4 linked regions of the Homo sapiens genome follow. The protein of the gene in region 3 purifies or fractionates together with the protein of the main gene of each other region. This does not show direct contact. Each region holds a gene or a part of one and is shown on either strand. Other genes may lie near its edges.

Region 1 (7,955 bases), on a different chromosome or scaffold from region 3:
CCCACCTTGGCCTCCCAAAGAGCTAGAATTACCGGCATGAGCCACTGTACCCAGCCAGCTACAGTAACATTTTTTGCCAATTAAATTTATTCAACATATTTAGCATCTAAAACTTGTTTGTGTATATAGTGTTACAAGATTCAAATTAAAATAAGCAATTTTTCAAGCTTACCAAGAATTTCACTGTTCAGAAAAATAATATCCTTAAATTGTGGTGTGTCTACTCAAATCTACAAAATTGAGGAAATATGCAATATGCAAAATGCTAACCCTCTGTTCCTATCCCATAACAAACATTACATTCTGTATATTAACATAATTTTTTTAATCCCACTAAAAACAAGATACAATCACTCCGTCACCTAATGTGCTATACACGGAAAGACCCAGAGAGTTTAAAACTGGGCAAACCATCCCAAGTCACATGAACACCACTAATAAGGAAGAAAGATATACAGCTAATTTGGGTTTAGCAGCCATACCTGTTAGTCCTTTTGACCTTTTTCTCCAAAGAATCAATAAGGAAACTGACCAATTTCCACAGAAAAAAAGAAAACAGCAAAATTACCATCTGTGTGGGGATCAATTTACAAAATTACTCAGCAATATTGAACTACGTCATCATTAGAAAATGGAGAAAAATCAAATATCTCCTAAGCTCCTGGCCCATTTTTCCTACCACCCACTGAGTAACTCTGTCTAGCAGCATTTCAAACTAACACTTCAAGCCTGAACTCCACACCTCCCCGCCCCACCTCCCTGCCCCAGACCTACCCACCAATCACATCCATTAATCTATATCCCCTATCTTGGCTGAAGGCCTCTCCCACTCGTCTCCCAAGTTAGAAACCTAGGAGTTAACTCTTCATCTCTACATGCAGGCACCTCATTAAAGCATGTCAACCTTACTGACAAACATCACCCAGTCCTACCCCTGTACTGTTATTTGAATTCAGGCCATCACCACCTCTCCCCTGAAGTCGACAACCCACTAACATGTCTGGCAGTACCTTCATGGGAGAGTCACCTTTCCTCCTCTTCCATTCCCCACATCCTGAGCATATTACCTTTTCCTTGCTTCCTATCTCTACCATACCACACTGAATACTTCTATTCTAGCACTGAACATCCTATTTTTAGTCCTCTGTTAACTTGTCTGCCCACCTGTGAATTCTAAGCTCTTGAAGAAGGGACCACTTTTGGTTACTCCAGTATCCTCTGTGGCTGGTACAGGTACACAGAGACAACTTTGTAAATGTTCGTTTACTGAATATGTCAAAGTCCATTCTCCACACTGCTGCCACATTTCTTTTTCTTTTCCTTTTTATTTATTTATTTTTTTGATACAGAGTCTTGCTCTGTCTCCCAGGCTGGAATGCAGTGGCGCGATCTCCGCTCACTGCAACCTCCGCCTCTAGGGCTCAAGGGATTCTCCTGCCTCAGCCTCCTGAGCAATTGGGATTACAGGTGCGCGCCACCACAGCCGGCTAATTTTTGTATTTTTAGTAGAGACAGGGTTTCACCATGTTGGCCAGGCTGGTCTCGAACTCCTGACCTCAAGTGATCCACCCGCCTCAGCCTCCCAAAGTGCTGGGATTACAGGCATGAGCGACAGGGCCCAGCCTGCTGCCACATTTCTTTCACCAAAAGCAAATCTAACCGAGTCCACTGGTTGGATGCCTACAATAGCCATGTGAGAAGCTGTCCCTTCACAGTCTGGCCCCAACTCTTTTTCACTCCAGCTCGTCCCCTGGCACTGTGACTACACTACATTCACTGTTCCCAGAGCACATTTTCAGGCCCGCGTATAATACATACTACAGGTTGCGCACAGAATCTCTTTCACAAGATTTTCCCTCCGTCTAAAACATTCCGTATTTTTCAAGCTCTGCTCACAAATCATCTCCTCCTCAAATTTTCTCAGGCAGAATAAACTTCTCCCTCTGGGTTACCTATGCACAGTTAATACAGCTTTTTTGTGGTCCCTATTCCACACACTATTCTTATTACAAATTTTGCGTTTGCTCCCACTAGAAAGCAGAATGTTGTGGGAACCTCCTGCACCAGGAGAGCCCCAGCACCTTACACGCTGACTGCCTCGAGTCATGTGATAGAGCTTGAGTTTTTCCACTGTTTGAAAACTGGCTCTGCGATCTTTCACCTGTGCAGTTGGGGGCAAGTCGTTATGAGGCTTCCCTGAGTCTCATTTCCTCTTACGAAAAATTAGAATCTCTATTTGGAAAGTTATTGTGAAGATCTCAGCTTATGAAATTATGTATGTGAAGCACCCACCACAGAGCACAATGCTGACTTTTTCTTTTCTTTTTTTTTTTTTTTTTTGAGACGGAGTCTCGCTCTGTGGCCCAGGCTGGAGTGCAGTGGCGCGATCTCGGCTCACTGCAAGCTCTGCCTTCCGGGTTCAGGCCATTCTCCTGCCTCAGGCTCCCGAGTAGCTGGGACTACAGGCGCCCGCCACCACGCCCGGCTAATTTTTTGTATTTTTAGTAGAGACGGTTTTCACCGTGTTAGCCAGGATGGTCTGGATCTTCTGACCTTGTGATCCGCCCGCCTCGGCCTCCCAAAGTGCTGGGATTGCAGACGTGAGCCACCGCGCCCGGCCCACAATGCTGACTTTCTATTAACTGTAACTGCCAGATAAAAATGCACTGGAGTAATGAAACGGGGGGAAGAGGCTGCCAAAAGGATGAATTAAGGATTATCAGTTCAGTCCCACAAACATTTGCAGGGTGCCTACTACGTACTGTACCAGAGGTGGCAGGACATACACATCAAAGGACGAACGAAGCACAGTCCCTGCCCACAGGGACAGTAAAATGCCAGATGACAAAGGTTCACCGAGGAGTTTTTGGGGTAAACCTATGGTCCCCTCCACACAGGGGGCTCTTCTAGGGCGGTGGTTCTCAACAGAGCGATGTTGTTCCCCAGATGACATTTTGGGTTGCCACAAATGGGGAAGAGATGCGACCGGCACCCAGCAGGTAGAGGCCAAGGATGCTGCTAACGAGCCTCCGATGCACAGACAGCCCCCACCACAATCTTCAGGAGCAGAGCGCCCAAGTAGAGAAGCCCTCGCCCCGCAGCACTGCGCCGAGTCCCCGCCCACACCGGCTCTGGGGAGCGGACTTCCGGCGGGGTGGACCCACGGCGCTTCCCGAGGCGCCGCAGAGCTGACCCCGACCCCGGGAGTGTGACCCAGAGGACACCGAGCCCCGGCAGCCCTGCGGGCACCAGCGCGCCGAGGCCCCTCAGCCCTGAGCCCTCCCTCCCGCCCCCCCCGGGTGCTAAGGCCGCGCCAGTGAGAGACGGACCCGGCGTCTACACACAGGCCCCCGGAAGGTTCTCACTCACTATTTCTCTGCTTTGGCGAGGTGTTCCAGCCCCTCGTTTATCTTCTGAGCCGCCATCTCCACAGTCAGGTCTCTGACGTGGAGAGAGGGTGACCCTGCCTCTTCCTCCGGCGCCAAGAATCCGCCCAAATAGGCGTGGGAACGCCGAGGAGGAAGCTGGTGCAGCGCGACAGTCGAGCGGCTACGGAGGGCCGGAGGGCCCAAGCCGCTGCGACGAAGCGGGGCTGGGAGCCTGCCGGTGCGCCCCGCAAAGAGACATTGCGCAGGCGCAGCGCGTCAAGGCTGGCCCCACCTAGGGCATCTAGCGCAGGCGCGGTGAGATACTGATGGGGCGTATTCTTTCATTCAATATTTGCAAAGCACCTAATATGTGTCAGGCACTATTTTAGATGCGGGAAGATCAGCAGACAAAAACTCCCGCCCTCTTGAAGTCTTGCTTTTTCATTAATGTGAAACTGCTGTGGATCCTGTTTGTAGGGTTAATTGGCTTTATAATTTATTACATCTGAAGTTTCTCTGTATGACAGATAGAATAGTATTCTTCTATCCATTCTGCCTTTTGGGTATTAATTGTATGTCAGTCAAGAAACGAAACAGACTTGTAAACCCTGATTACTGTCAAATAATCCGCGCCCAACCCAAATAATCGCTCTAATATTTCAAGCCGTGATAAGTGCTCTAAATGGGAAGTTGAGGGATCTAAAGTCGCGTACAGTGGTCTGGTAAAAATAGTAACCAGTAATACAGTTGGCTTCATTCATAATTCATGGTGATTTCAATATCCACATGGATGATTCCTGCAATGACTATACAGCCTCTCAGCTTCCAACCTCCTGTGATCTTTCCCACACTAGCGCAGCCACACATTCCTGGGATCACACCCTTGACCTTACTCATAACTGTGTACCCTCCGTAGTGTCAGTTTCAAACAGCTCACTTTACTTCCCCTTTCCATTCCAGCTCATACCTCCTAGTGCTAGTAATTACTTAACCTTCACCAGATTCCTCACCTTTCCCTATCCCTCTGCTCTTACACGTCCTTCTTTTCCCAGCATAAATTCATGTCCCATCATTTTAGTGCGTATACTCTCAACGGCCTTGGCTCCCTCTCCCTCCTTTCTCCAAGCCAGGAAAAACCCCAGCTCTCCACCTACTCTGGAACTGCTCTTGAGCAAGTGAATTTGACTGGAAAAAAACAAACGAGGATGCTAACATTACTCATTTTAATGATCATAAACATTAAGCCGACCTTTGGTGCTGCTGAGCAACTCTCCTATGTTTCCATGGTCAAATCACTCACCCACTCACTTGGAGGGCTGTTCACACCTTCCTTCTCAAAACTCCTACACAATCTCTGCTTGCCTGCCAACTCTCACTTATTGTTGAATATGAAATAACTATTCGAAGAGTTCTTCCCTTTGGCCTCACCACACAATCGATCGATCTTCCTGCATCTATTTGCCAATCAATATTTTGCATTTTTTCTAGTGCCAACAGGTGAACTGGCCTTGGATTTTTTTCTCTATCCTCACTTTCTTATTTAGTACCCACACACAAGACCCCTCTTCATTTGGTTGTCTAGCCTGGGCTTCCTTTATAGGAAGGCAGCAGAATTTCAAGAGAGTGAAAGTGGAAACTTCAGGCTTCGTAAGGCCTGGACTCCCACTGCACATTACTTCTGCCACATTTTATTGATGAAAACATGTCATAAGGCAAGTTCAGATTCAAGAGGTAGGAAAATAGAGGAGTGTAAAATACTTTGGCCATGACTTCCAATTCACCACAACTCTGGGATGACTGATTAAATATAAAAGGACTGTTACCAGTGGAAAGCCTTATGTTTTCAAGTGAGTTTAGATTTATTAACCACCCAATACCATCACCCTCTAAAACCATTGAAAGTGCCCAGAAAGTTTTCTAAGCCTATAACCTCCTCCACATTCTCCCTTATTTATTCATTCATTATTGAATTATTGTTTACTGAATGCCCACTCTGCACAAGACATTAAGCCTACACACCTAGGACCCAATTGTTGAGCAAGAGATATAATGCCTGCCCTCATTGCATTCATGATCTATGAGAGGATACAATATTTAACTTAATTTTACTTTGGCATCAACAAAGAAAGAATGGGAAAAAAACCCCACGATAGTGATATAGCAGTTATTAAGAAATACTTTTTAGGCAGATAGTAAGGGTAAATGTTCTCAGTGGAAATTTTCCTGTTTTAAGAAACAACCCCTGAACCATCTCTTTTCTAACAGAAAAGGCAGCTTGAAGAGCCAGGCCCGCAAGCTTTGATATGCAAATGTCAGTCCTTAGAAACTGAGTTCACTCAACATGGTGATTCCGCCATCTCTTCCTTGTCATCAGGTGTACCAAGTGTCATGGCCACCTCCAGATAACACCATGTGTTCAGAACATCACGGTGACCTGTATTTGCATATTAAAGGGCTAAGGTGGGAGGGCCAGGTTTTTCGAGAGCTATGTAAATGACACACCTGGTCAAACCAATCCCCTGGGCCCTATGCAAACCAGACACCACCTCCTCCAGGATCCCAATATAAGCAACCACTTTTCCACTGCACACTGGGTTTTCTCTTTGTTCAAATCCTCCCTACCTCTGTCTCTGTATGGGGGAGGTGTTTTCTTCTTCCTTCCTTCTTTCTTGCCTATTAAACTTTTCACTCCTTAAAACCACTCCACGTGTCCGTGTTGTTAATCCTATCAGCACGAGACCAACAACCCTGGTGTTCCTCCATTCGTTGGAGCTATATCAATAGCCATGGGCATTCAAGGGTTCTATGTTTCAAAGGACCCTTGACCAGGGAAGCCGTGGTAAGTATGTGCTAACATGCATTCATAGTAAAGGGGAGAAGAAGAGAGAGAATGGGCACAGTAAAGGTGTAACACAAATGCCCCCACTTTCTTCCCCTCCCCTTCTCTTCCTGCAATAACATTGAGGTGGGAGTTGAGCAAGGGGAATTTAAACTGAGAAGTCAGCTTAGAAGAACTGAGAATGGAAAGCATGGACCAAATGATGATAGACTAAGACGTGTAGTTTCCCAAGCTAGAATCGATAGTGTGACCCCAGGCCTTGTTGACCCATAAACGTAATTCTTGTTATCACAGCAGCTACCACCAGAACCTCAGCAAAAGTTGTCTTTGTGACTTCAACTTACCTCTTGCCTCCTCTCCTAAGGCTCTTTAGACGCTCATGTCCTCCCTCACCTACCCCGTCAACATACAGACTTGCTGGCTGCTGGCCCAAGTGATTCCATCTGAGCCAATCCTCTCCTCTAGTTCTAGAAACTCTTTTTCTTTATCCTGCCTCAATAAAAATGTGCATTCCTGAGTGATCTACTTGTTTTGGATGTGACTAAAATGATTCACATCAAAGTGTGAATGAGGCTTAAAATAGAGCTTGCAAACCCCATTCCTTCTCTCATGGTGGGCTTAAGTCTCTGAGAGTTCTTTAAGCCTGCATCCCCAGGTTCCTTGTCTACACAAACCTGCTTCCTTCCCCTAGCCTAGTCTGCTGCCAGGAAGCAAAATCCTTGGACCTACCTCCCACAGCTGAATGTTCCAGTCAAATAAAAGGTCTTTGTCATTTCTTGGAGAGAGGGTTTGATGGGTCAAATGAGCTCTATTTCAAATCAGGAATCATAAATAAGGAAACATAAGAGCTCCTATATCGCTAAGTTTTCTTTGTTTGTTTAATTGCTAGTAGCCTGACTGTGTAATTTTACCCTTTTCCCCCACAAATATACTGTTATGTTATACAAGAGATACACTTCTGAGACCCAGCCCAAGAGGTTAGCCATGAATCATAAAATCATTTCTCTGGGAAAATATATTCTGAGTTATAAATAACGAATTTACAAAAAACCTTTGGAACAAATTCTGCTATCATTTGACAGTTCCTTTCATCAGAATAGGATTTTAGAAGATTGTTCTTGGCTTTTTTTCTGATAAAACTAATAGAAGCCATTATGATCTGTATTTTTTTTTCTGGTTAAGTGTTAATGAATACATTGACTTTTAAAAATCACCACTGAATCTCTATGAGATTAATATGGAGAATTCGTTCTCCAGATTCCTGTGTCCAATGCCTTCTTAGCAGCTCCACCTAGACATCTAAAATGTCATACATAATCTGTTCAAATCTGAGCTCCTGATGCTCCCATACCTGCTCTCCCTTCAGGCTCAGCCATGCTGGGTTCATGGCAGCTTCACCCTCTCCTTGCCCAAACACTTGGAGTCATGCTCCTCTGCTCTTTCTGTCGCACAACACATGCAATCTGTAGGAAATTCTGTCGACTTTGCCTCCAAAAAGTGCCCAGAGGCAACCACGTCTCCTCATCTCCCTGTCCACAGCCACCGCGTAGTCTGTTAGTTGCCATCGTCTGTGACTGCACTCACCATCTGTGTTCAGAACACAGTGCAGTGCGAATTCCAGAGCAGAACTCAGTCAATTTTGGCTGAAAGTCCTGTGTCATTACGGAAGAAGAGGAAGAAGCATTTGGACACTTGGAAGGTGTTTTCTCTCAAGTCTGGCCATGGCCCTTCTTCAAGGTAATTTCTTT
Region 2 (7,683 bases), on a different chromosome or scaffold from region 3:
AGGCAGGAGAATTACTTGAACCCAGGGGGCAGAGGTTGCAGTGATCCATTGCACTCCGGCCTGGGCAACAAGAGTGAAACTCCGTCTCAAAAAAAAATAATACTAAAATAAAAAATGTTTGACTTGGGGAATTCCTGACTTCCCTACTGGTGGTCAAGGCAGAGACTGTGCAGGCTCCAAAGTCAGTGCACTTGCTGACAGTGCACTTGCTGTGTTCCAAGGGTAAGTGCCTTATATGCCTTAATACTGACACCTAAAGCCCAGTGGGCCCAGGCCGGGAAAATGGGACAGAGGCTCTGCTTACTTTAATTCAGTGTCAGAAATGGTCACAACTCAACAACTCAAAGGAAATTAAGAAACTAAATAATGAGGCTCAGGGCCGGGTGCGGTGGCTCACGCCTATAATCCCAGCACTTTGGGAGGCCGAAGTGGGCGGATCACCTGAGGTAAGGAGTTCAAGAACAGCCTGTCCAACATGGTGAAACCCTGTCTCTACTAAAAATACAAAAATTAGCCAGGTGTGGTGGCACGCGCCTGTAGTCCCAGCTACTCAGGAGGCTGAGGCAGGAGAATTGCTTGAACCTGGGAGGTGGAGGCTGCAGTGAGCCAAGATCGTGCCACTGCACTCCAGCCTGGGAGACAGAGCACGACTCCATCTCGGGGGCGGCGGGGAGGGGGGAAGACGGGGGGTGGGGGGCTCAGAAACAGGAAAAAAAAGTATGGGGAGGGGCAGAAAAGAATCTCATCTTTTACATTTGAGCAGTTACATTATCCAACTAAGTCCGAAGAACAGCTTCTCTTTGGACCCAGGGATCTCATTCCAAAAACAGATCAGCAACCAGCAGGGCCCCATGACTTCCTCTCTCCCACAGGTCTACTCAGAGACACCTGCTCTCACATCAAGTACACCAGAAAGATGGTGCAGGAGTTAGCAGGCAGACTGAGGTTTCAAGAGATAGAGAGAGAATGTTCCCAGACTTTTTGCTCACTAACTACTTCGGTTTTGCGTTCCCATTTGAGACCCCACAGAAACGAACGTGGATTTCTCTACTCCAATGGTGCAGGTGGAACAAACTCCCATTTAGGCTTATTCAATGAATGTAAAATAAAACATTTCTAATAGTGACAACTCTGCAGCCAGTCAGACACGGCGAGTCTCTTCTCCATGGTGTAGGGGCAACCCACCCCTACAACCCACCCCTACACATGGGTTCTGGTTCTCTACCCCTTTACGCAGTTGCCTTTCCTGTTGCTGTTGCAACAGTGACTGTTGCAACACTGAGGGTTTTCAGCTCTGCCCTGCACCCAGAGGAGGTGGCAATCACCACAGAGCCCAGGACAGGAGTGGGCTGCTCCTTCCAGATAACGCAGAAGCAGCGCCCACTTCCTCCCCGCTCCCCGTAGCAATTTCAAGGAAGCTCATTCTGTCGCAGCCAATTTGAAGAAGCAAAGAATGACACTAAACCAATGAAACTAAATCTTACTCTGCATTCGCATGCCCCACGGCATGAGGTTCCACACTGGGCACTCAAAATCCAGGATAGACAGAGCTCATTTCAACCCCTCTAAAAAAGCACGCTGGGCTTCCAGACTTTGTGAGTAGTGGAGGGAAATCATCCAGCCCCAAGTGAACAGCTCCCCAGGCTCACCTTGGGCGTGCAGTGCGCGGTGGAGCAGGGGCAGGAGCCCCGCCTGCCAGAAGGAGTAGCAGCCATCCACCAGCTTGTTGCAGCGGCCCTGAAATCCTCCTTCAAATCGCATCTGCCGGCTTGTCACCCATTGCTGAGGAGACACAGATGGGAAAGGCAGTTGTAGGCTAAAAGAGACAAAATCCAGCCCGACAGAATCTCCAGGAGTCAATCTGTGGGATGGAGGGTTTCCCATCTTGTGGCTTCTTGGCACTCTAGTTTTGGTGCTCTGGTTTTCTTTCCTTCCCTCCCCACACTGCCATAGACACAGAGTGAAGCATTTAAGCCAACGCTGTAGAGGCATCCAGCACTGATCTCTGCTCAATGCCTGGCAGACAACTACCTTTTCCTGGGTTCCAAAGCAGTGCCAGTGCTGAGAAGATAAAGAGGCCAAGCTGGTTTGTAAGGAGACCTTCAAAGTCTCTTAATAAACATGGCTTAAGTTGGAAATTGAAGGCAAGACTACCAGTAGCTCATTTCTCATTACTTCCCTGCTCCGGGGAGTTTATTAAAAGCAGATAAATGGAATTTGGTACTACATTTCTTTTTTTTTTTTTTTTTTTTTTTTTTTTTTTTGAGACGGAGTCTCGCTCTGTCGCCCAGGCCGGACTGCGGACTGCAGTGGCGCAATCTCGGCTCACTGCAAGCTCCGCTTCCCGGGTTCACGCCATTCTCCTGCCTCAGCCTCCCGAGTAGCTGGGACCACAGGCGCCCGCCACCGCGCCCGGCTAATTTTTTGTATTTTTAGTAGAGACGGGGTTTCACCTTGTTAGCCAGGATGGTCTCGATCTCCTGACCTCATGATCCACCCGCCTCGGCCTCCCAAAGTGCTGGGATTACAGGCGTGAGCCACCGTGCCCGGCCTGGTACTACATTTCATCAGATGATCTCAAACTGCTCCTGACTTTTACTTGGCACCTGGGGAAATTTACCCAAGGTCTCTTAGCAAGTCACTAGCAGGCCTGAAAGCAGAAGCCATTCATTCTAATTACCAAATGACAACTCTGCCCAGTCTGTGGCTGATATAAGAAAATCTTTTACTTTGAAGCTGTAAAATAGGTCTTGGTCTTGATGTCACTCAGCGGTCACACACGATACCACCATTCCTTGCTTATCTACAAGTTTTCTAAACACACTCTACTACAAAGATCAAGATAGTCATGGGTTTGGTCCCTCAGAATGAGCAGAACCAACTGGCTGAGCAGATATGACATTTCCATTTCCCTCCCTAGACCACCTAGGCCGTTCCAGCCACGGACTTACAGAGCTGCCTCACTCAACTGAAAGGGTACAGGGGAGGGTACTTCCTGTTTCTAGAGTCTTACTAGGTAAAGGTCCTGAAAGGAGCCACTGGGACCCTTGATGGAAGTGGGGGCCAGCCCTCCCCTAAAAGCTGTTGTTTAGATTATTCCCTCTTCAAGGCAACACCTGCCCATAGAGAGTCACAGTCACAAATGCTTAAAAGAGACAGAAAACACTGTACTGCAGGTTCAGGTACTAATATATCCTCGGTTGATCTTAAATGAACCAGGGCTTCCAGCATGTAATGGAAGTGGGCTAAGCATTACTCAGGCAGAGAGAAAGCAGGCGCTGCAGTGGGAGTCGGTTCCTCATTTCTACTTACCGCAGGGCTTAAGTGTTTTTAAGCAGACTAATTTACTTTTTCCAGTGCCTAAGCCCATGGATTTGTTCTGTTTCCTTGGGCTATAGGAATTCATACTTCAGATATGGGTCCTACTTCTCCCAAAGCAAATGGAAGGGAGTAGTCTGGATTAGAGCAGGGGTCCCTAACCCCCAGACCATGCCAGGCTGCACAGCAGGACATGAGTGGTGGGTGAGCCAGTGAAGCTTAATCTGTATTTACAGCTGCTCCTCACTGCTCCCATTACTGCCTGAGCTCCACTTCCTGACAGATCAGCAGCAGCATTAGATTCTCATAGGAGCGCAAACCCTACTGTGAACCGTGTATGCCAGGCTTCTAGGTTGCACGCTCTACATGAGAGTCTAATGCCTGATGATCTGTCACTGTCTCCCATCACCCCCAAATGGGACTGTCTAGTTGAAAGAAAACAAGCTCAGGGCTCTCACTGATTCTACATTATGGTGAGTTGTATAATTATTTCATTATATATTACAGTGTAATAATAGAAATAAAGTACACAATAAATGTAATGTACTTGAATCATCCTGAAGCCATCACCCCCCGTCCCACCCCCAACCCCAGGTCCACGGAAAAATTATCTCCCACAAAACTGGTCCCTTGTGCCAAAAAGATTATTACTGTGGGTTAGAGGGACACTAACATTTATTAAGTACCTACTATGTGCCAGGCTGTTTATAAATGTTCTCTCCTTTAACCTTAAAAAAATAAGGATTGTTATCCCTACCTTATAAAAGAAAAAAATATCAAGCTAAAAGAGATTAGACAATTTGCCCAAGGACTCATGTCTCAAATGTAGTAGGGACAGGGTTCAAATCTAGAACACTGTCTTTATAACTGAGGCACTCCCTAATCACATTCCTTATCTCTGCCTGGGAGATGGGACTTTTTTGTTTCATGCCTTATTGGTGTTCAGATTTTAAAACATCTGAGAAACTCTTAAGTTCAGCATACAAAGTTGGCTGTTTCAGCATGAGCCTTCAAGCCTTCATGAATCTTTAAAAAGACTACACCGGGGGAGGCTTTCTGAAGGTGGAGGCAAGACACTGCTGGTTACATGTCTACAGGGTACAACAGAAACTCTCCAGGAAGCTCACGATGGGCCGCATAACGGGAGGCTGGCATCTGAACTCAGGGAGAGGAGGTGCATGTCAGTTGCAGCTGGTTTGCTTTGACGTCATGGTCAGGGGGTACATGCTCCCCAAATGACATGACGGGGAATGCCTTCTCCCTGGTGGCCGTGGAGGTGTGTGTGTTTGTGCACCCACTGATCATTTAACTACAATCTAGTGACTCCCTGAAGCTGACTGCTTTCTGAGTTTCTTCTGAATACTGGCCAGGAGCGTGGGGTCCAGACATAAATGTTGGGCTGCCTTCTCAATGCAATTAGCCAGCTCTGCCTAAACAACTCATTTAAATGTAGGTACTAAATGTTTACACAGTGCAGCAGGTAATAAAAGTTTGGTTTCGAAATGCTGCAAAGCTCTTCTTGTAACTTTTCCTCTTAGGAGGTTCTTTCTATAACACACGATAACCTCTAATTCTACGAAACTGAAGTATAAGGAAGGTACTCTGCTCACACCAGATGTCTGCAGCACACAGTCTATGTAGTCTACACACTATGTAAAAAGCTCTAAGCAGGAAGACAGAAAGGCAGAAGGGGGAGCCAAGACAGAGCAGCTGCTCACTCCTTCCTCTGTGTTGGAACAGAGCTAACTCTCTTAGCCCTTCCCATAGCCAAACTCTCCTGAAGCCTGCATGTCTGAGTACAATCACATCACCATGACCTGGGGCCTGAGAGGGGGATGGCTCAAAAGATACTTACTAATAAGCTCTTCAAGTTCAAGGAACGTTCCCTCTTGAGGATTACCAGCGCGGCCAGGCCACAGAAGGTATAGCCACCATGGGCTTCCATCCCTGGTACCCCGCCAATGCCACCTTCCCAGTTCTGACACCTAAGAAGAGATTGAGAAAAGCAGAATGAGTGGCCAGTGAGTGGACGTACACAAGACCAGGACCATCCTAGGTGGCAGAGAAAAAGTTCACTCAGATTAAGGTGTGAACCATCACAACTATGAATGAAAAGATGCCAACTAATTAACTTTTGGAAATGTCTTTTCAAAAAAAAAAAAAAAAAAAAGCTGGGCCTGGTGGCACCCATGTGTAATCCCAGCTGCTCAGGAGACTAAGGCAAGAAGATCACTTGAGGCGAGGAGTTCGAGGCTGCAGTGAGCTATGATCACACCATTGTGCTCCAGCCCGGGTGAAAGAGTGAGACTAGGTCTCCAAAAAATGTAAGTATAATAAAAACTGTAAAATGTTAAAAACCCAGACACTTAGAAACAGCCTACTTGTGTAAGAAACATAATAATTCAAATTATTACTCTTTGGGAAAAAGTTATAAAATCATACATATACATATATGTACATATATACACATATATATACATATATATATATACACACATATATATACATATATATACATATATATATAGTGATAACCATCAAGTTAAAATAAAATTAAAGAGTGATTGTTGATTCTAGTGATCTTTTATTTTTGAAACAGGGTCTTAACTCTGTTACCTAGGTTGACTGCAGATCATGGCTCACTGCAGCCTCAACCTCCTGGACTCAGGCAATCCTCCCACCTCAGCCTCCTGAGTAGCTGGGACTATGGGCGTGCCCCACCATACCCGGACCATTTTTTGTATTTTTTGTAGAGATGGGGCATTGCCATGTTACCCAGGCTGGTCTTAAATTTCTGGCCTCAAGGAATCCTCCCACCCCAGCATCCCAAAGCGTTGGGATGACAGGCATGGGCCACCGCACTTGGCCTCTGGTGATCTTTGAGTACAGGTCTACTAGTAATATTTTTCCTTTTTGTTTTTCTATTTGTTCAAAAAGTTTTTATAATGAACCTGTATACTATTAAAAAATAAACGTTATTTTTAAAAATTATAATTAGGCCAGGTGGTGATGGCTTCTTAAACAGCCTGCAGAACCATGAGCCAAATAAACCTCTTTTCTTTCTAAGTTACCCAGCCTCAGGTATTCCTTTATACTGACACAAAATGGACTAACACAAGAAGGACAAGAAATAACTGACTTAGTAGAATAGAGAAACCTTTCCTACCCAAAGGATAGGGATGGGAGAGGGGCAACAAAAAGCAAGGTGATCTGCTCCAATAAAAGGCTCCAGGATTAGAGATACAGGGAACCTCCACAAAGTGGAATGCGTCTGAACCAAGTTTGTTGGTTGCAAACTTATATAAGAATCAGACCTTTAAGTCCCCTACTCAAATCCAGCAGAAGATGGGAAGTTTCAGAGGTTTAATCAAAAGGATCTGAGTTCCAGAATATCCAACAAGCTAAGAGGAGGAGGGAGCACTGTACCAAATGTGATTACGTGAGAGTCAGTAATCTCAACACAATACCCCCAGCCCCATTCCTCTGTGTATTTCACACAAGGCTGCCAGTTTCATACCCCAAGCAGGAATTTAGAAGATTCCTCTCTGAGGGAACTGATAAGCCCAAGGGAAAAACCCTACAGACACTGCTTTGAGAATTCCCCAATGAATGGCTTGATCCTGCCCACTCTCGCAGAGCTCCCCAGCAGCTTTTCAGTGCTGGATCCTTAAATATGAACAGACAGCTGTAGAGTACCAGACATTTGACCACAGTCTCTACTATGAAAGAGGAGACCAAAACAAACAAAAATAAATTGGAGGAAATAAGACAGGGAGCAAAAGAAAACTTTTTAAAGTTGTATCTTTAGATAAAATATTATATGAAGTAAGACTATTGAGAGGACAAAATATCCCCAGAAAAGAACAAGAGAGTAGATAAAAAAGTAGTCAGGAAGTAAAAGTAGTCAGGGAGGAAAACTAAAAATAGGATTACAAAAATAAAAACAAGAGGATTAGAAGATAAATACTAAGAGAATCTCTCAAAGTATAAGAAGAAGGATTAAGAGATGGAAACGAACCATGCAATGAAATATTTTTATTTTTATTTATTTATTTTTGAGACAGAGTCTCGCTCTGATGCCGAGGCTGGAGTACAGTGGCACAATCTTGGCTCACTGCAACCTCCGCCTCCTGGGTTCAAGTGATTCTCCTGCCTCAGCCTCCTGAGTACGTGGGATTACAGGTGCATGCCACCACGCCCGGCTAATTTTTGTATTTTTAGTAAAGACAGGGTTTCACCATGTTGGTCAGGCTGGTTTCGAACTCCTGACCTCGTGATCTGCCTGCCTTGGCCTCCCAAAGTGCTGGGATTACAGGTATGAGCCACTGCACCCGGCAGTATTATTTTTATTTATTTATTTATTTT
Region 3 (7,683 bases):
ATAATAATAATAATAATAATACCAAAATTACCTGGGCATGGTGGCATGTACCGGTAGTCCCAGCTACCCAGGAGAATCGCCTGAACCTGGGAGGCCGAGGTTGCAGTGTGCCATGATTGCACCACTGCACTCCAGGCTGGGCAAAAGAGCGTTTCAAAAAAAAAAAAAAAGAAGTCATCTGTTTTCCCACAGGGGCCTTTTCTGCCCCTCCTGTTCCCCTATTAAGATGCTATATAAGCCCCAAATTGTAACCACTTCGAGTCACATTTTTGTGACTCACAAAAGAGTTTAATCACACACATCTGTATGTATGTGATTAAACTGCCTTTCCTCTTCCTCATCTGTCTTTTGCCAGTTTAGTCCATATGCCACCAAACACTGAATCTATGAGGGCAGGGGGTTAGGGTTCTTCCCCAACAACTCGAAGGTGGCATTTTTTTTTTTAATTAAGAAGATGTTATTAAGGCATGGGGAAGTTTCTTAAACACAAAAACAAATTCATGCATAACTCTACCACCCCAACCCAACTACATTCATTCTTCCTATTTCCTCCTGGTCTTTGCATAGACAAAGAGAGTGCTGTGGTCTGAAGATGGTGTCCTCTCAAAATGCTATGTTGGAACTTAATACCCAATGTGATAGTATTAACAGTGGGGCCTTTGGGAAATGATTAAGGCTCAAGGCCTCTGCCTTCATGAACAGGATTAGTGCCCTTACAGAGAGCTGCCTTGCTCCTTCCACCATCTGAGGACACAGTAACAAGGTGCCACCTCAGGAGCAGAGTGAGCCCTCATCAGACACCAATCTGCTGGTGCCTTGATCCAGGACTTCCCAGTCTCCAGAACTGTGAGCAATGAATTTCTGTTGTTTATAAATTACCCAGTCTGGCCGGGTGCAGTGGCTCATGCCTGTAATTCCAGTACTTTGGGAGGCTGAGGTGGACGGATCACCTGAAGTCAGGGGTTCGCGACCAGCCTGACCATCATGGAGAAACTCTGTCTCTACTAAAAATACAAAAATTAGCCAGTCGTGGTGGTGCGCGCCTGTAATCCCAGCTACTCAGGAGGCTGAGGCAGGAGAATCGCTTGAACCCGGGAGGTGGAGGTGGAAGTTGCGGTGAGCCAAGATCGTGTCATTGCACTCCAGCCTGGGCAACAAGAGCGAAATTCCGTCTCAAAAAAAAAAAAAAAATACCAAGTCTAAGGTATTTTGTTATAGTAGCCTTAACAAACTAAGACAGAAATTGGTACTGAGAAGTGAGTTGCTGCTGTATTAAATACCCACCAATGCAGGAGTGGCTTTGGAACTGGGTAATGGGCAGAGGCTGGAAGAGGAAAAGGCTAGAAAAAGACTGTATTGCTATGTACAGACCGTAAAGGGGAGCTCTGGTGAGAGTTCTGCTTTGGTTTGGATGTAGTTTGTCTCCACTAAAACTTATGTTAAAAATTTGGGCCAGGCGCAGTGGCTCACGCCTGTAATCCCAGCACTTTGGGAGGCCGAGGTAGGCAGATTGCCTGAGCTCAGGAGTTCAACCAGCCTGGGCAACAAGGTGAAACCCCATCTCTACTAAAATACAAAAAATTAGCCGGGTGTGGTGGCATGCACCTGTAGTCCCAGCTACTCGGGAGGCTGAGGCAGGAGAACTGCTTGAACCCAGGAGGTGGAGCTTGCAGTGAGCCAAAATCGTACCACTGCACTCCAGCCTGGGCGACAGAGCAAGACTCCGTCTCAAAAAAAAAAAAAAATTGATCCCCAGTGTGCGCTATTGAGAGGTGGGGCCTAGTGGGAGATGTTTGGGTCACAGAGGCAGATCCTTCATGAATGGATTAATGCCTTCCTATGGGGGTGAGTGAGTTCTTGCTCTCAGGGCACTTAGTTCCCATGAGAACAGGTTGTTATAAAAATGAGTTTGGCTTCCCAGGCTCTCTCGTTTCCTCTCTTGCCATGTGATTTCTCTGCACCCGCCTGCTCACTTTTCTTCTCCACCATGTTTCAACCTAGTGTGTGGCCCTCACCAGAAACTGCCAGATGTGATGCTATGCTCTTTAACTTACCAGCCCGAAGAACTGTGAGCTAAATAAAGTGTCTTCTTTATAGAATACCCAGTCTTATATAGTCTGTTATAGCAACACAAAACAGACTAAGACAGGCTCAGAAGAAAACAGCTGTAAAGAAAGCCTCAATCTTCTTAGAAATGATCTAAGTGGTCATGATCACAATGCTAGTAGAAAAACAGACAGTAGGCTGGTCATGGTGGCTCACACCTGTAATTTCAGCACTTTGGGAGGCTGAGGTGGAAGGATCGCTTTGAGCCCAAGAGTTCAAAACCAACCTGGGCAACATGGCAAAACTCCATCTCTACATAAAATACAAAAATTAGCCAGACATGGTGGCACATGCCTGCAGTCCCAGCTATTTGGGAGGCTGAGGTGGGAGGATCGATTGAGCCCAGGAGGTCAAGGCTGCTGTGAGCTGTGATCACACCACTGCACTCCAGCCTGAGCAAGAGAGTAAAACACTGTCTCAAAAAAAAAAAAAAAAAGGTCGGGTGCAGTGGTTCATGTCTGTAACCCCAGCACTTTGGGAGGCTGAGGCAGGCGGACCACTTGAGTTCAGGAGTTTTGAGACCAACCTGGCCAACATGGTGGAATGCCATCTCTATTAAAAATACAAAAATGAGCCAGGTGTGGTGGTGTGCACCTGTAGTGCTAGCTACTCAGGAGGCCGAGGCATGAGAATTGCTTGAACCCGGGAGCTGGAGGTTGCAGTGAGCCGAGATTGCACCACTGCATTCCAGCCTGGGTGACAGAGTGAGACTCCATCTCAAAAAAAAAAAAAGGGCAGTGAAATAGAATCTTTGGCAAAAGAGGGTGCATGGCTGCTCTTGACTGCTTATACTAAAATCCAAGAAGATGAATTAAAGATGAGATTTATCATCAAAGGGGAGGTAGAACTTAAATATTTGGAAAATTATCAGCCTGGCCATCTTGTAAAGAATGTAAAAGCAAGGCTGGATGCAATGGCTCAGGCCTATAAGCCCAAGAGTTTGGGAGGCCAAGGAGGGAGGATTGCTTGAGCCCAAGAGTTTGTGACCAACCTAGGCAACAAAGCAAGACCCCGTCTCTACCAAAAAAAAAAAAAAAATTAGCCAGGCCTGGTGCACACATCTATAGTCCCAGCTACTTGGGAGGCTGAGGTAGGAGAATGGCTTGGGCCCGGGAGGTGGAGGCTGCAGTGAGATCTGATCGCACCACTGTACTCCAGCCTGGAAGACAGATCAAGACTCTGTCTCAAAAAAAAAAAAAAAAAAAAAAAAAAGCAAAAACATGTTCAGGACAGAACTCCAAGTGTGTAGCCAAGCAAACTTTTCTTTTTTCTTTTTTTTTTTGAGATGGTGTCTCACTCTGTTGCCATGCTGGAGTACGGTGGCACAGTCTTGGATCTCAGCTCACTGCAACCTCCAACTCCCTGGTTCAAGTGATTCTCCTGCCTTAGCCTCCCGAGTAGTTGGGATTTAAGGCACGCACCACCATGCCCAGCTAATTTTTGTATTTTTTGTAGAGACGGGGTTTCATCATGTTGGCCAGGCTGGTCTTGATCTCCTGACCTCGTGATCCACCTGCCTCGGCCTCCCAAAGTGCTGGGATTATAGGTGTGAGCCGCCGCGCCCAGCCACCAAGCAAACATTTGATAAGGAGATTAGTATGGATAGAAAGAAGCCAGACGGCCAGGAGTGGTGGCTCACACCTGTAAGCACTTTGGGAGGTTAAGGCGGGTGGATCACTTGAGCTCAGGAGTTCAAGACCAGCCTGGGCAACATGGTAAAACTTTGTCTCTACAAAAAATACAAAAATTAGCCAGGTGCGGTGGCAAGTGCTTGTAGTTCCATCTACTCATGAGGCTGAAGTGGGAGGACTGCTTGGGCCCAGGAGGTGAGACTGCAATGAGCCATGATCGCACAACTGCACTCCAGCCTGGGTGACAGAGTGAGACCTTGTCTCAAAAAAAAAAAAAAAAAAAAAAAAAGAACCAGACGCTATTCATCAAGACAGTGACTCAATGACCCCAAAGGCATTTCTGAGATCTTTGTGACTGCCCATCTCATCATAAGCCTAGAATGCCAGGGTCTTGGGGGCAGAACGATTTCAAGGCTCCACTTCCCACATTCCAGAATACTCCTTACCCACTCCAGCTATAGCTCAAGCAGGTCCAACTATAGCTCGGGCCACCCCTCTGGAAGGCACAGGCAACAAACCACAGTGGTGTCCGTGCAGGGCCATCTCCACAGTGCACAGAGTGAATGAGCTGTGGGGGCACATCTACCTCTACCCAGACTTCAAAGGATGCCCCAAAGAGTGCCAGGGCCCAAGCAGAGAACTGTCACAAGGGCAGGGCCACCAGAGAGACCCCACTAGGGCAATGCCCAGTGGAGTTGTGGGGCAAGACCACCCCAAGACCCAAGACTGGTAGAACCACTAGAGTGCAACTCCAGCCTGAGAGATGCAGGCATGAGAATCCAGTGACTGAGAGCTGCTGCATGGGCTGCTCCCAGCAAAGCTGTGGGAGTGGGGCCATCCAGAGCTTTGCAAGACCAACCCCTGCCCCAGTTTTTGTGGAAGGCGGGGCTTTGAGTCAACTTAAGCCTTAAGATTTAATGTTGTTTGTCTGGTTGGGTTTTAGACTTGGTCAGGACCTGTCACTCCTTTCTTTCTTCCTACTTCTCCCTTTTGGTCTCGAACTCCTGGCCTCAAGCAACCCTCCCACCTTGGCTACCCAAAACGCTGGGACTACAAGCGTGAACCACCACACTGGGCCTCACTTCTCCTTTTTGGAATGGGAATGTCTATCCAATGTCTGTCCCACCATTGCATTTTGGAAGCATACAACCTGTTTGATTTCACAGGCTCACAGCCGGAGAGAAACGTGCGTCAGAGTGAATCCCAGAGCTGGAGTCTTACCCATATTTGATTTAGATGATATTTAGATGGGACTTTGGACTTCAGACTTTTGAGGTGATGCTGAAATTAAGTTAAGACTTACCCGGAGTTAACATTTTGGGGGCTATTAGGATAGAATGAATGTATTTTGCACGTAAGATGAACATGAATTTTGAGGGGCCGGGGCAAAATGCTATGGTCTGAATTTTTGTGTCCTTCCAAATTCATGCTGGAACCCACTGTGGTGGTATTAAGAGGTAGGGCTTTTAGGTGACTAGTTTGTTAGGACTCTGCTCTACGAAGGGGGTCAGTGCCCTTGTCAGAGAGGCTTGAGGGAGTCTTCCACCTTTCTCCACCACATGAGGATGCAGCAAGAAGGTACCATCTACGAGGAACAGGCCCTCGACAGACACCAAATCTGCTGGCGCCTTTATCTTTTTTTTTTTCTGAGAAGGAGTTTCACTCTTGTTGCCCAGGCTGGAGTGCAATGGCGCGATCTCGGCTCACCACAACCTCTGTCTCCCGGGTTCAAGCGATTCTCCTGCCTCAGCCTCCCAAGGAGCTGGGATTACAGGCATACGCCACCACACTTGGCTAATTTTGTATTTTTAGTAGAGAGGGGGTTTCTCCATGTGGATCAGGCTGGTCTCGAACTCCTGACCTCAGGTGATTCACCCGCCTCGGCCTCCCAAAGTGTTGGGATTACAGGCGTGAGCCACCGTGCCCGGCCCATCACGGGGTCAGTGCTGGCGCCTTTATCTTGACCTTCACAGCCTCTAGAACTGTGAGCAATAAATTTGTTGTTTATATTACCCAGTCTAAGGTATTTCATCACAGCAGCCTGAACTAAGACAAATAGGTATACAATCTTATATTCTGCCTTGTTCATATATATTCCATATATTTTTCTCGTTTCCAGATAGTCTTGATTATTTCAAAGGGCTGCATAATTAGCTGTACTGACACAGTATAATTTACCAAGCCCTACACTCTGGTAAACCATTTAAACCTTTCTAATATTTTGCATTAAAAACAACATCACAGTCAATAACTTTGTATATAAAAAGCTTTTTGCTTATGTTAAACTACACTCTAGTATATACTGCTGAATGAATGAATGGACTTCCCTGAAGCATTGCAACTGTCTCAATAGTCCAAACATTTTCACAGGTCTTGCAAAGAAGGACAGACTGCTTCTAAACGGCCTTACAATTTACAAGGTAATCAGAAATGCATTCGCTACTATCTGGCCAAGAAAGGTGTTAATGAGTTTTTGCCAACTAAAAAAAAACGAAGAATGAGGAAAAAAACCACACAGACAACAGTGTAGTCAGCCTTAAAATCAGAGGAAAGTGGGAAAGAGGCAGCAGCACACTTACTGGGGATCTCCAGGCTGGGGTGGATGGCAGCCACACTTCTGACCATGGGTGGGGAATGCCGTCCATCCACCAAGTCCGACTCGGCATCCTGCGCCTCTCCATGAATCACTGCAATTCCCAGGCGCAGGCGCTCAGCAAAAGACTGTGCCCTGAGGGAAAACACCAGACACAAGCTCAAAACTCATGCAGCCCTTGGTTCTGCTAATGCCTAGGGGACAAAACATTAAGAGAACATAAGTAGAATGTTGTCTCCCAAAGGACTAAAGAAAAGAGAGAATAAAACAGCCTTAGACTCTTAGAAACCAGGACTAACTGTAGAGACCCCACATGCCAAACACTTCCCTCTGCAGCAGCACCAAAGAAGGGCAGCAGCCTGGCCTGGTCTGCAAGCCACTGGCCGGGAGAGCCTGACTGAGTGAAGGAACCTCCGCTCAGCTCTGTCTCACCTAAAGCTGCTAATTCTACCTGCCTGCCTACCTACCAGTGAGAACCAACTACATGGGGCAAAGGGCATAAAATGCTCACCAAAGTATTAAGCACAAATTTCTTAATAGTTTTAGGGAGGTAAAACTGAGATATGAGAAACTGTGCATATCTAAAGTATATAATTTCATGAGCTCTGAAGGCTGTATGTGCCCATATAAGCATTAGCACAATCAAGATAAGGAACGTCATCACCACAAGCATCTCCTTATGCCCCTTAGTGATTTTTCACTAAGTGTTGCCCCAGGCAACAGCTGATCTGCTTTCTGTCACTATAGTTTCACCTATCTAGAATTTCACGTAAGTGAAATCATAAAGTTGCCTTTTTTTGTCTGATTTTTTTTTGAGATGGAGTCTTGCTCTGTCGCCCAGACTGAAGTGTGGTGGCAGGATTTCTCAGTTCACTGCAACCTCTGCCTCCCGGGTTCAAGCGATTCTCCTGCCTCAGCCTCTCAAATAGCCAGAACTACAGTCATGCACCACCACATCTGGCTAACTTTTTTGTATTTTTAGTACAGATGGGGTTTTACCATGTTAGCCAGACTGGTCTCGAACTCCTGACCTGAAATGATCCACCCACCTCGACCTCCCAAAGTGCTGGGATTACAGGTGTGAGCCACTTGCGCCTGGCCATTTTGTCTTATTTTACGCAGCACATGTTTTGGAGATTCATCCATGGAATAACATATCAATAGTTCATTCCCTTTCATTGCTGAGTAATATTCTGCTGGGTGAATATATCACAGTGTATCCATTTATGTATTGCTGAGCTTTCCGGTTGTTTCTAGTTTTTGGCTGTCACAAAGCTGCTGTGAACATTCATACACAGATCTCTGTATGGGCACATGCTTTCTTTCCTTCTTTCTTTCTTTTTCTTTTGAGAC
Region 4 (7,683 bases), on a different chromosome or scaffold from region 3:
TTGAAGCCAACCCGCTCCTCATAGGTCAGGGTGGGCACCTCCTCGGAAGCACAGGCTCGCTCGGGCACTTCAGCCCCACCAACCTGAAGAGGGGAGACACATGGGCATGAGACCAGTTGGCAAGGGCCAGGTAGGTGCCCAGAGACCCCCACCATCCTGGCCTTGAGAGTGGGTTCTGAAAGAAGGAAGAGCTGCATGGCCGTGGGCTTCCCAGGAAAGGTCTGCAGCACAGCAGCCCCATGCAGCCATGATGGGGTGTGAAGCGTTAACTACCTGCAGGCTGTGGGGTGAAGCTGGGGCTGGAGGCCGGGGCAGGTGTCCAGGGCTGAGGCCCAGGTGTCCTGGCCTTGCTCCTGGTAGCTGTCTGGAACCCCAGGGGGCCCCAAAGCTGTGAGGAGCTGGGTGGGAGCAGGGTAGGAGCTACTGGTGTCCAGCTGGCAGGTCAGGACACCCCTGGGCACCCTCACCTCGCTGTCGGAGCTGGGCTGGACGACCTCCCAGGTCTGGAAGTCCACGTCATAGCAGTGCAGCTCGTTGGGCAGCGTGTTGTCGGCCGCACCCCCAAACACATAGAGGTGGCGGTCAAAGGCCACCATGGTATGCCCGTAGCGCCGCTGCGGGGGTGGTGGGGAGCCCCGGAGCAGGTGTTCAGTTGGGATGCGTGTCCACCTGGGGGTACACAACAGTGAATCAATGCTGGGACAGGGGCTCCTGCTCACCCTCGGGGCCTCCCCACAGCAGGCCTTCACTGGGAGGTCCCCCTGCATCCCTTACGGTGACTAGCCCAGGGTCCAGAGGGAGGGCCTAGACACCTGCGCTGAGCACCTCTCACCCCATCCAGCACGGGCACCAGCCCTGCCTGGCTCCATGTGGCCCACCGCAGGGTCCTGCCAGAGCTCCCCCCTCTCCCCATGGAGCAGGCAGCAGTGATGGGCAGGAGGGTGGCATCTGACCCGCCCAGGCAGTCCTGCTCTCTGGGGAGTAAAGTTGTGCAGAGACCATTGCAGGTCACTGTGTTCACGCTGCCCAGTCAGAGCATCCCCACAGCTGAGTCCCCATCCTGGGAGCTGCCTGTACCCCACATCCTGATGCTGCCCCAGCACCTTCCACCTCCCAGGCTTCCCAGTACCTCCCAGCAAGTCCTCTCTTTTGCTAAGTTAGCTGAAGACTTCAGAACAGATCCTGGCCTGGCAGGGCTATGCCATCTGGCTCCATGCTGAGCCCCAGGCCCTTGACAATTTCCCTCATCCTGGGGCTCCCTGCCCTTCCTCCCACGCACCCGTGGCCTCCAGGGAAGCTCCCAAGTCCCTTCCCAAACCCCCTGTACCTGCAGCTCACACTCCTTGTGCCCTCTCCTGCAGCCCCATTGCAGGGATCAAGGGCTGGCCAGCAGCCAGGGGCAGCATGGGCCAGACCTCTCAGGACCTGCAGGCCCCTCTGGTCTTCTGCCATTATTTGAGATCTATGCAGGCCACGTCTGTTACTGGTGGCACTGACCAAGCTATTCACGAGGAAGGGGACGTCCTTCACGTTCAGAGGGAGGCCTAGCCAGGGGCCTCCTCGCCAGGCCTTATCTTGCTAAGCTGTAGCCATATCCTGGGGACCTGCCAGGGGCACCGCACATCCCTGCTCCGGGCTGTAACCTCCTGCTGTTTGCAGAGCTCACAAGGATGGTTACCATGGCCACCAGGTGCAAGAGGCGTTCTTCATATTCAGAAGGATTCGAGGGAACTGACCGTCCTCCCTCCACCCCACTGGCCAGAGTACTCACGTCTTGTCCTTGAATTCAAACTGGAAGAGGTTGTTGGTTATTTTGGCTCCGCTTTGCCCAGAGAATACAAACATCTTGTCCCGGCACACAGCCACGGGGAAGTTGCAGCAAGATGGGGGGATCTCGCCACTCTGGGCCACCTGCAGGGGGAGAGGACAGCTCAGCCCCGGCCTCACAGGGCCCGCTCACATTTCACCACACTCGAGACTGCTGAGATGGGACTGCTTTTATTCTTGAAACTTCCCCAGATGAGGATTCACAGATTCCTTTGTCTTGGAACAGCTCATAGCCCTGTCTCATCCACTTCACGGGGCCCAGTTGTGAACAGCTGGGGTTAAAATCGTCAGGGTTAAATCATCAGGGGCTAAACTCATGTTTTTCATGCCCAGAAGACTGAAAAACAATTTTTTTTAATGAATAAATAAATAAATTCCATGTTTCTAAAGGGGAAAGCAAGCCCAGGGGGAGCTCCAGGGAGCAGGACACTGGATAGCAGACGGCCCTCACTGCACTGAAATAAAGGGTGCGTTAAAGCAAAACCACATCCTCACACACGTGGCACTCTGCCCATCCAAAGCACCAAACCTCGAATCACTGTGCAGCCACAGTGAGGAACTGGTCGTGAAGGCCCGCAGGTCACCAGGGAGGAGAGCGAGGCTCAGGTCGAGGCTGGGCTTTGCAAGGGGAAGAAAGCAGCCTCGACCCCCAGCCTGGCTCCCCCTGCCTCCCACCTCCCTCCACCTGCACCCTGTCTCCCCATGCCCCTCACCTCCTCCACCTGCGCCCTGGCTCCCCGTGCCCCTCACCTCCTCTACCTGCGCCCTGGCTCCCCACGCCCCTCACCTCCTCCCAGCAGGTGAGCTCTCGGTCCTGGAGGCCAATTGTCCACATGTCATTCAACCTGTATTAGGACAGACCAGTGAGGACCCCTTGGGTCTGGTGGTCAGGGTGGGCCTAGTCCTGGCTGGAAGGGATGGCTGCAGGGAGGAGCCCCACCCCCACACAGGGTAGGAGACTTGTGCGGCCATGAGGCGGGAACTTCTGTGTGGGGTGGCAGCCACTGCCTCAAATCCCTGCTGTGCCAGGCCCCCTGCCCGGCCCAGACAGAACAAGTACTCTCATGCATGACATCAGGGCAGTGTGGCAGTGCCAGCTCCTCACTCAGTGTCCCTCCTGGGTGGGGAGAGGACACAGATATCCCAGATGCCACCATCACTGCATCGTTAGGAGTTTCTATGATGCTGAAGTTTTGGGAAACCAGCATATGCTACTTTTGTGATCAGAAAAAGAGAGCAAAGCCAACTTTCTAAAATAAGGAGGAAAAGGCCTTTGGCCTGGGCAAGAACCAGGGCTGGGCCTGAGCCTGGGCACCGCCCACCCGCCCACCAACTCAGCTCCGCAGGGCAACTCCTGGCTGAGGATCCTCATCCAAGCTACTCTGGTAGCCACGGGGCTCCACCCAGTGGCCCTCACCTCCATCTGTCCATCCTCCTCTTTCCCCATCCCCCTCCCAAGAAACCCCCAGACAGAGTGGCACTCAAAATCCACCAGGCACTCAAAATCCTCCCAGCCTAAGCCCTCAAATGCCAGGACGGCCTGCTCCGGGTCTCAGTGCTGTCGGAGGTGGGGTGCACAGGCCGGACCACCACCCACCTGGCGTTGCCGTCATAGCCAGCAAAGATCCACAGCTTGTCACTGTACACCGTGGCCCCATGGGCTGACCTAGCGACTGGCAACCTGGAGTGTGAGGGAAGAGGGGAGGGAGTGAGGCCGCCCAGCACAGACCTGAGCCACCCAGCCCCATGTGGTCAGTGCAGGGGCCACAGCCAGGCTGCATGGCTACATCCACCCGACACTGGGGCTTCAGGACCTCCACAAGGCACTAGGAATAAACAACAGCCCCAGAGGCCGACTAGTGGCTTGAAGAGGAATTCAGACAGCCACAGAGGCACAGAACCTTCTCCTAGGTGCCCCCAAAATATCAAAGGGGGTGCTCAAAAAGCGGGACCCCAGAAGCGCCATCAGCAGTACATTGGATCTTATTGAACATTTTTTTGTGACAAGGTCTTGTTCTGTCTCCCAGGCTGGAGTGCAGTGGGGCACACATGGTTCACTGCAGCCTTGAAGTCATGGGCTCAAGTGATCTTCCCACCTCGGCTTCCCAAAGTACTAGGACTACAGGCATGCGCCACCACGCCTGGTCCATTTGGGTCTCTTCTGAAAGGAGGGAGTCTAAGGGCTGGGAGCAGGCCATGCATAGCTGCACCGGGGGATATTCCACCAATCCCAAGCTCCCTGCTATTGCGTGCCCTCAGGGTCCTCATCTGGGAGGCAAAAGGGGGCAGATCCCAGGTCCAATGCCACCCAGGACCCAGCCTGTCCCAAATGTTTCTGCAAAGTTTCTCACCGTCCTTCAATTTTCCACTCCGTCCACTGGCCAGTTGCAAACTTGTATTCAAAGAGGTCGTTTTTATTCTTCAAGTTAGAATTGGAATAAATGTCCCCAGTGTAACCCCCTGAGTAAAGAGAGTGAGAAACTGTCAAACCCAAAGGGCAGTCTTGGAGATTTCAAACCCTGGAAGGTGGAGCAGAATCTGGCCCCCCTGAAAATGCATAAGCCAGGACTCCTTCCACAAGCCCCGGAACGACCTGCTGCCTGTCTGCCTCTGTGCTGGGCTCTGGGGACACAGAGATGAGCAGGACACTGTTCCCAGCCACAGCTCAGTAACACAGAAAGACACCCAACCCTGTGAGCTCAGGGCCGTTAGGGCAAGGGGTCCCAGATCCAGCGCAGAATTCCGAAGACTGGCAGACAAAGCCACGGGTGGAGAGAGAGCCCCTGCTGTACACAGCACGAGCACAAATGCCCCAGGCCTGCAGAAGGGCAGGGTGTCTGTGGGCCTCGGGGCGACACAGCCCCTGGGAGGCAAGAGGCTGCTTACCAAAGACAAACATGCTGCTCCCATAGACGACGGCCGAGTGGTGGTAACGGGGGGCCGGTGGGGTCCCAGTGGTAAAGGCCCTGGGGTGGGCACAGGGGTGGTGAGAGTCAGCGGGGGTCACCCATGAGGTCCACACCCCCACAGGGTGGCCCTGCATCCCTGTGCTGCCTTTCTTTTTTCTTTTTTTTTTTTTTTGAGACGGAGTCTCTCTCTGTCGTCCCGGCTGGAGTGCAGTGGCACGATCCCGGCTCAACCTCCACCTCCTGGGTTCAAGCGATTGTCCTGCCTCAGCCTCCTGAGTAGCTGGGATTACAGGCACCCACCATCATGCCCAGCTAATTTTTTGTATTTTTGTAGAGACGGGGTTTCACCATGTTGGCCAGGCTGGTCTTGAAGTTCTGACCTCAGGTGATCCGCCCACCTCAGCCTCCCAAAGTGCTGGGATTACAGGCGTGAGCCACCGCGCCCAGCTACGTTTCACTTTTGTATTTTGAAGGTGATACCTGTCTCATCATAGAAACTTAAAAAAAAAAAATCACCAATAAGGAAAAAACAAAATAGGCACTAAAGCTCATGCAAATTCCCATTACCAGAAAACCTCTGGCAACACCTTGAGGTCTTCCCTGCACACCTCTCCTACGCATACTTAGGCTTCCATGAAATTTTTTAAAATGGAATCAAGTGGCAGATATTTTGTAAATTGCTTATTCCACTCACAGAATGTGACCAGGTCCTCATGCTACTCCAGGACCATCCACACTCCTGCTCTCAGCAGCAGTGCAGCATCTTACAGCACGGGGTCCATCAATTTCATTTAATACCTATCTATCTAACCATCATCTATCTATCTACCTATCATCTATCAATCATCTAATCTATATAATCTATATATCCATCATCTATCCACCTATCATCTACCTATATAATCTATCCATCATCTATCTGTCATCTATCATCTATCTACCTATCATCTATCATCTATTGTCTGTCATCTATCTACCCATCATCTATCTAATCTACCTACCTATCATCTACCTATCATCTATCTATCGATCTGTCATCTATCATCTATCCACTATCTATCTATCTGTCATCTATCTGTCTAATCTACCTATCATCTATCTATCATCTCTCTTTGTCTTTCTATCATCTATCTATCTTTCTTTCTATCTATCTATCTATCTATCTATCTATCTATCTATCTATCATCTGTCTATCTATCTTCCTAGACAGGGTCTCACTTTGTTGCCCAGCTGGTCTTGAACTCCTAGCTTTTTTCTGAGTTTTATACTTAAGCAATTTTTGACAAATAATTGTGAAGCCTTCAGAATGATTTTTTAAATTAATTTGTAACTACTAGCCATCTTACAAAATCAAGTGTGAGAGAAAAGACATAGCAACTTCTGTACCCATACTAGCATCAGCCTCGAGGTAGAGGTGGACAGCCCAGAAGGGTGCCGCCCTGTGTGCCCAGCTTGGCAGCTGCAGGTGCGGGGTGGTTACTTGATCTCCTCAGCCTGACAGGGCGGCTCTGGATGTGGCATCCCTGAGGCCGTGGTTATCTCCTCCTGGAAGCTTCTTTCTAGCTTCCCATGATGAGAGAGACTCTGCTAGCAACTGGGACCCAGCACTGTGCCACTGTGTTCTAGGAGGAAAGGCAGGGCCCTGGAGCACGGGGCCACCCACCTGCACCAGGAGCAGTCTTTCACATCGAACCGCAGGAGGTCATTGAGCATGGTCTTCCTGAAAGGCAGCCGGAAGAGAGGGTGGCATTAGCCAGGTCTACTCTGCAGTGACCCCAGAGATGGGCACTGCATGTAGCCAGGGTAGAGTAGGGGGCTGTTGTGGGCTGGGTCACTAACACAGCCAGGCAACCAGCTGATGCCCAAGAACAAGAGTGGTGACCACAAAGGAGGCTCCCCAACTGATATGGGCACCAGGGCTGCCACACAGGCAGACACCAGCCTGCCTGGGGTCAGGACCAAAGCATGAATGTGGCCACCAGGAGCCCAACCAGCAGCTGACATGAAGGCATGAAATGGCCCAAAGGCCAGAGTCACCCTCACACCTCACCCTAGCCTCCAGAACCCCTATTCACACGTCCCAATCCCCTTCCTCTGCAGCTGTACCCTGCAATGCAAGTGCTTGCCCGTGCCTCAGGAGAGGCCCTTTGCTTCTCTCTGATCTTCCTGCCACTTCTTAAAAAAAAGAAATAGAGACAATGGGCTGGGCTCGGTGGCTCACGCCTGTAATCCCAGCACTTTGGGAAGCCTAGGCGGGCGGATCACTTGAGGTCAGGAGATTGAGACCAGCCTGGCCAACATGGTGAAACCCCATCTCTACTAAAAATACAAAAAAATTAGCCTGGCATGGTGGCAGGCGCCTGTAATCCCAGCTACTCGGGAGGCTGCGGCAGAATCGCTTGAACCCGGGAGGCAGAGGTTGCAGTGAGCCAAGATGGCGCCACTGAACACCAGCCTGGGTGACAGAGCAAGACTCCATCTCAAAAAAAAAAAAAAAAAAATAGAAACGAAGTCTTGCTTTCCTGCCCAGGCTCGTCTTGAATGCCTGGCCTCAAGTGATCTTCCCACCTCAGCCTCCCAAAGTGCTGGGATTACAGGTGTGAGCCACTGCACCTGGCCCCTGCCATTTCTTTGTTGCAAAAGCCATACAATCAAATAGAAAACAAATTCACTGGCCATTGCACCACCTAACACTACCAGCTGGCATATCACTACCCAGCCCTTGGGAAGAAGGGCAAACTGACAGGAGCCCAGTGCCCCGTCATGCCCAGCCTGTGCTGGGTGCCCCCTGAACGGTCTCACTTAGTCTGCACCAGTGGGTGCTCTCTCACCTCCATTTCACAGATGGCAACAAAGCCTAGTGGCTCAAAGGCTGTGTCTGAGGCCATGCAGCCAGGAAGCCAGGAGCCTAGAAGCTGGTGGTGATTGTGATACCGCCCCCCCCCCC

Evidence for each region.
Region 1: the proteins of PRPSAP2 (region 3) and NAPG purify together in Homo sapiens (affinity purification with mass spectrometry; 2 studies listed by BioGRID and IntAct, with this or other methods). This does not show direct contact.
Region 2: the proteins of PRPSAP2 (region 3) and FNTB purify together in Homo sapiens (affinity purification with mass spectrometry, with the first as the bait; 2 studies listed by BioGRID). This does not show direct contact.
Region 4: the proteins of PRPSAP2 (region 3) and LZTR1 purify together in Homo sapiens (affinity purification with mass spectrometry; 2 studies listed by BioGRID and IntAct, with this or other methods). This does not show direct contact.

What each region holds. Positions count from the first base shown.
Region 1 is NC_000018.10:10,521,573-10,529,527, reverse strand, and holds the start of NAPG (gamma-soluble NSF attachment protein), read right to left. Parts: upstream 3,502-7,955; 5' UTR 3,426-3,501; coding exon 3,370-3,425; intron 3,082-3,369; exon of another isoform or gene 2,954-3,081; coding exon of another isoform or gene 2,763-2,953; intron 528-2,762; coding exon of another isoform or gene 483-527; intron 1-482. UniProt on the Homo sapiens protein: Required for vesicular transport between the endoplasmic reticulum and the Golgi apparatus.
Region 2 is NC_000014.9:65,038,410-65,046,092, reverse strand, and holds part of FNTB (protein farnesyltransferase subunit beta), read right to left. Parts: intron 5,304-7,683; coding exon 5,174-5,303; intron 1,783-5,173; coding exon 1,650-1,782; intron 1,406-1,649; exon of another isoform or gene 1,324-1,405; intron 1-1,323. Other genes in the region: CHURC1-FNTB protein, read right to left, coding at 1,650-1,782, 5,174-5,303. UniProt on the Homo sapiens protein: Essential subunit of the farnesyltransferase complex. Catalyzes the transfer of a farnesyl moiety from farnesyl diphosphate to a cysteine at the fourth position from the C-terminus of several proteins having the C-terminal sequence Cys-aliphatic-aliphatic-X.
Region 3 is NC_000017.11:18,909,885-18,917,567, reverse strand, and holds part of PRPSAP2 (phosphoribosyl pyrophosphate synthase-associated protein 2), read right to left. Parts: intron 6,466-7,683; coding exon 6,317-6,465; intron 1-6,316. UniProt on the Homo sapiens protein: Seems to play a negative regulatory role in 5-phosphoribose 1-diphosphate synthesis.
Region 4 is NC_000022.11:20,984,614-20,992,296, reverse strand, and holds part of LZTR1 (leucine-zipper-like transcriptional regulator 1), read right to left. Parts: intron 6,457-7,683; coding exon 6,400-6,456; intron 4,794-6,399; coding exon 4,714-4,793; intron 4,288-4,713; coding exon 4,179-4,287; intron 3,509-4,178; coding exon 3,425-3,508; intron 2,673-3,424; coding exon 2,615-2,672; intron 1,912-2,614; coding exon 1,772-1,911; intron 670-1,771; coding exon 468-669; intron 84-467; coding exon 1-83. UniProt on the Homo sapiens protein: Substrate-specific adapter of a BCR (BTB-CUL3-RBX1) E3 ubiquitin-protein ligase complex that mediates ubiquitination of Ras (K-Ras/KRAS, N-Ras/NRAS and H-Ras/HRAS).